2 separate regions of the Homo sapiens genome follow, and region 1 is linked to region 2. The links come from fine-mapping of genetic effects on gene expression. Tissue or cell type: whole blood. Region 2 holds a variant in brackets; the other region holds the start of a gene. All regions are shown on one strand. Distances are between the middles of the regions.

Region 1 (2,547 bases), 32 kb before region 2:
CTGGTCTCCAGCTGGGAACCCACTTAGGCCATAAAGAAAAACGCACACTGTGCCTCTCCACCGGGCCTCTGGAGACGAGGCTCCTCGGGGATACAAACAGTGGGGAGAACATGAGGGACATCCCGACCGTACTCTGCGTCCTCCTTTCCCAGGTGTTGCGTTCTCTCTTGGGCTGAGTGGCGAGGTCTCTCCCGAGTCCCAGGGCCACAGTGCAATGTCACATCTCCTTTGTGGAAAGTGACTGGTAAAGGAGAGAGAACAAAACTGGAGGAATGTAAAGTCTTCAGCCACCTGGTTTAATTTATTCAAGAGTGATTAATCCTAGATGAGAAAAAGAATTGAAATGGATCGGAAAAAAATGAAAGTGCATTGGCCGGGAATCGAACCCGGGCCTCCCGCGTGGCAGGCGAGAATTCTACCACTGAACCACCAATGCTACTGTCAGCTAAAGACCTGCAGTATTGTCTCTTAAAGCTCACTATCTCTGGCCATTCACTAAGGAACCAGGCACCGTCTTAAATCGCGGTTTGGAAAATATTTTGTTCAAGATAAAACTGTTTTAAGATATACGTGTATATATCTTATATATCTGTATTCGCATGGTAACATATCTTCGGCCTTCCTGAGCCGCTGGGCTCTCAGCGGCCCTCCAAGGCAGCCCGCAGGCCCCTGTGTGCCTCAGGGATCCGACCTCCCACAGCCCCGGGGAGACCTTGCCTCTAAAGTTGCTGCTTTTGCAGCCTCTGCCACAACCGCGCGTCCTCAGAGCCAGCCCGGAGGAGCTAGAACCTTCCCCGCATTTCTTTCAGCAGCCTGAGTCAGAGGCGGGCTGGCCTGGCGTAGCCGCCCAGCCTCGCGGCTCATGCCCCGATCTGCCCGAACCTTCTCCCGGGGTCAGCGCCGCGCCGCGCCACCCGGCTGAGTCAGCCCGGGCGGGCGAGAGGCTCTCAACTGGGCGGGAAGGTGCGGGAAGGTGCGGAAAGGTTCGCGAAAGTTCGCGGCGGCGGGGGTCGGGTGAGGCGCAAAAGGATAAAAAGCCGGTGGAAGCGGAGCTGAGCAGATCCGAGCCGGGCTGGCTGCAGAGAAACCGCAGGGAGAGCCTCACTGCTGAGCGCCCCTCGACGGCGGAGCGGCAGCAGCCTCCGTGGCCTCCAGCATCCGACAAGAAGCTTCAGCCATGCAGGCCCCACGGGAGCTCGCGGTGGGCATCGACCTGGGCACCACCTACTCGTGCGTGGGCGTGTTTCAGCAGGGCCGCGTGGAGATCCTGGCCAACGACCAGGGCAACCGCACCACGCCCAGCTACGTGGCCTTCACCGACACCGAGCGGCTGGTCGGGGACGCGGCCAAGAGCCAGGCGGCCCTGAACCCCCACAACACCGTGTTCGATGCCAAGCGGCTGATCGGGCGCAAGTTCGCGGACACCACGGTGCAGTCGGACATGAAGCACTGGCCCTTCCGGGTGGTGAGCGAGGGCGGCAAGCCCAAGGTGCGCGTATGCTACCGCGGGGAGGACAAGACGTTCTACCCCGAGGAGATCTCGTCCATGGTGCTGAGCAAGATGAAGGAGACGGCCGAGGCGTACCTGGGCCAGCCCGTGAAGCACGCAGTGATCACCGTGCCCGCCTATTTCAATGACTCGCAGCGCCAGGCCACCAAGGACGCGGGGGCCATCGCGGGGCTCAACGTGTTGCGGATCATCAATGAGCCCACGGCAGCTGCCATCGCCTATGGGCTGGACCGGCGGGGCGCGGGAGAGCGCAACGTGCTCATTTTTGACCTGGGTGGGGGCACCTTCGATGTGTCGGTTCTCTCCATTGACGCTGGTGTCTTTGAGGTGAAAGCCACTGCTGGAGATACCCACCTGGGAGGAGAGGACTTCGACAACCGGCTCGTGAACCACTTCATGGAAGAATTCCGGCGGAAGCATGGGAAGGACCTGAGCGGGAACAAGCGTGCCCTGCGCAGGCTGCGCACAGCCTGTGAGCGCGCCAAGCGCACCCTGTCCTCCAGCACCCAGGCCACCCTGGAGATAGACTCCCTGTTCGAGGGCGTGGACTTCTACACGTCCATCACTCGTGCCCGCTTTGAGGAACTGTGCTCAGACCTCTTCCGCAGCACCCTGGAGCCGGTGGAGAAGGCCCTGCGGGATGCCAAGCTGGACAAGGCCCAGATTCATGACGTCGTCCTGGTGGGGGGCTCCACACGCATCCCCAAGGTGCAGAAGTTGCTGCAGGACTTCTTCAACGGCAAGGAGCTGAACAAGAGCATCAACCCTGATGAGGCTGTGGCCTATGGGGCTGCTGTGCAGGCGGCCGTGTTGATGGGGGACAAATGTGAGAAAGTGCAGGATCTCCTGCTGCTGGATGTGGCTCCCCTGTCTCTGGGGCTGGAGACAGCAGGTGGGGTGATGACCACGCTGATCCAGAGGAACGCCACTATCCCCACCAAGCAGACCCAGACTTTCACCACCTACTCGGACAACCAGCCTGGGGTCTTCATCCAGGTGTATGAGGGTGAGAGGGCCATGACCAAGGACAACAACCT
Region 2 (2,760 bases):
ACTGGAGTTTTATTATTACTCAAATCAGTCTTCCAGAGCATTCGGGGAGCAGAGTTTTTAAGGACAACTTGGTTGGTGGAGGGGAAGCCAGTGAGCCAGGAGTGTTGATTGGTCAGGGATGAAATCACAGGAAGTTGAAGCTGTCTTCTTGTTCTGAGTCAGTTCCTGGGTGGGCACCACAAGATCAGATGAGCCAGTTTATTGATCTGGGTGTTGCCAGGTGATCCATCAAGTGCAGGGTCTGCAAAATATCTCAAGCACCGATCTTAGGATCAGTGCTTAGGAAGGGTCAGAATCTTGTAGCCTCCACCTGCATGATTCCTAAACCATAATTTCCAATCTTGTGGCTAATGTTAGTCCTACAAAGACAATCTAGTCTTCAGAAAAAAAGGAGGTCTGCCCTGGGAAAGGGCTGTTATCATCTTTGCTTTAAACCACAAACTATAAACTAAGTTTCTCCCAAAGTTAGTTCAGCCTATGCCCAAGAATGAGGAAAGACAGCTTGGAGGTTAGAAGCAAGATGGAGTCAATTAAGTTAGATCTCTCTCACTGTTTCAGACACAATTCTGCAAAGGTAGTTACAAGAGAATGGGAGTTTTTGTTTTCTTTTAAGTGAAAGATACGAGCTTGGTTATAGGTCTTTGGGAAGAAGCCAGCAGGGTGGGAGAAGTTGGATGCCTAACAGGGACGGAACACCTAGAGAAGCAAGTGTGGGTCCTGAGGAGATGGGAATGGGACATGGACAGGGAGTTGGCTGTGAACTGGATACGGATTACCTCTCGCTCTGAGCTGAAGGCAGGAGCTGAGGGGGTACATATGCAAATCCATTTTCAGATGTTGAGTGACCATCCACATCTGCTGGTCCTGATTTTCTTGGTTAAGGAGGAGTCAAAGACACTTGTCGAGAAAGAGTGGGTAACAGTTGTGGTGGGGGTTTGAGAACACCAGAGTTGAGAATGGCCATTGTGGTGCATGGGAGAAGGAGCCGACTGTTTGTATGTACAAGAATTACCAAGAATTCCAAACAGTTGTAAGGATTGCCAAGCAATGCCAAAGGTCCAGCTGAGGTGGGTCGCTGTGCATTTGTAGCTGGAGCAGTCTTCAGTGCTGATAACATTTCTCCAGTTGTACTCAGTGCCAACTGCTGTCTGATTAGCCTGCTGAAAACGGTCCTGAGCAGGAGTGGAGGGAAGTCCTACAACCTGTATTACCTCCAAAGCAGCTCAACCAGACTGAGGAAATGCTAGAATGAAGGTATGTGGGCTTTCAGTGAGCTCATCCAAGACAGGTAGTCAAGAAGGCTGTGAGAAAGGTAGGCTGGCCTGGCAGTCTTTGGTATAGTCCAGCAGTTGAATTCCAGTTACCTATTGCTGTAACTGTAGAAAAAACAAACTCAGTTCCTCCCACTATGCTCTCACAACACATTTCTGACAACAGATATGTGGGGATTTCTCTCCACTGGCAAGCAAGCAAGCAAGCAAGCAAGCAATTCAGCAGTGGGCACCAACTGGGTGTCTTCTAATCCAGTGGTCTCCAAAATTTTTGGCACCAGGGATTGGCTTCATGGAAGACAATTTTTCCTCGGACAGGGGTAGGGGGGTGGGGGATGGTTTCAGGATGATTCAAGTGCATTACATTTATTGTGCACTTCATTTCTATTATTATTACAGTG[T/C]AATATTTAATGAAGTAATTATACAACTTACCATAATGTAGAATCAGGGGGAGCCCCGAGCTTGTTTTCTTGCAACTAGACAGTCCCATCTAGGGTGATGGGAGACAATGCCAGGTCATCAGGCATTAGATTCTCATAAGGAGAATGCAACCTAGATCCCTTGCATGCGTACTTCACAATAGGGTTCATGCTCCTGTGATAATTTAATGCCACAGCTGATCTGATAGGAGGAGGAGCTCAGGCGGTGATGTGAGCCATGGGGATCTACTGTAAATACAGATAAAGCTTTGCTCCCCACCTGCCCCTCACTTCCTGCTGTGCAGCCCAGTTCCTAAGAGGTCACTGACAACTACAGGTCTGGGGATTGGGACTTCTGCTCAAATTCAATTGAATTCCAACACTATCTAACTGGAAATAGCATCAGGTGACACAAGTGAAGGGCTCAGTCTCACAAGACACTTCTGATACTCCAGGATGAAGCCCCAGGTTGTTTTACCTGTGCTTTTGACCAACCAGTTATAAATGGGGGTTCCCACCACCTGCATCTTGGGTTCAATTAATTTGCTAGAGTGGCTCTCAGTACTCAGGGAAACATTTACATTTATCAGTTTGTGATAAAGAATATTACAAAGGACACAAGTAAAGAGTACATAGGGCAAGACCTGTGGGAAGGGGCTTGGAGCTTCCATGCCCTCTGGTGCACTACCCTCCAAGAACCTCTCTGTGTTCGGCTCTCTGGAGGATCTCCAAACCCTGTCCTTTTGGGTTTTTATGGGAGCTTTATTACTTAGGAATGATTAATTAAGTCATTGGCTATTGGTGATCAATTCAACCTTCAGCCCCTCTCCACTTCCCAGAGGGAGTTTGGAGGGTGGAGCTGAAAGCCCCAATCCTCTGACCTTGCCATGATCTTTCTTGTGCCCAGCCCCTGTTATGAAGCTACCTAAGAGCTGCCAGCCATCAGTTACCTCATTAGCACACCAAAAGACATCACTTTGGAGATTCTAAGGATTTTAGGAGTTGTATGCCAGGAAAAAGGATGAAGACTGTATAAAGGACCCTTGACATAACTAACTCCATCTTAGAAA

What was found. PIP is the estimated chance that this variant, and not a neighbour inherited with it, causes the effect.
Region 1: HSPA6 starts here. The variant in region 2 is fine-mapped to the expression of HSPA6 in whole blood (TOPMed, PIP above 0.99).

Annotation. Positions count from the first base shown.
Region 1 is chr1:161,523,482-161,526,028 of GRCh38, forward strand. It overlaps HSPA6 (heat shock protein family A (Hsp70) member 6), which reads left to right and starts at 1,059. Exons shown (of 1, transcript NM_002155.5): 1 at 1,059-2,547. The coding sequence starts at 1,178. TRG-GCC2-1 (tRNA-Gly (anticodon GCC) 2-1) reads right to left here and starts at 436; the gene lies at 366-436. It also overlaps a transcript of FCGR2A not described here.
Region 2 is chr1:161,555,202-161,557,961 of GRCh38, forward strand. No RefSeq gene overlaps it. Among named protein-coding and RNA genes, the nearest start is that of FCGR3A, 6.8 kb to the left of the region's middle. The variant T/C (reference allele first, on the strand shown) is at 1,673.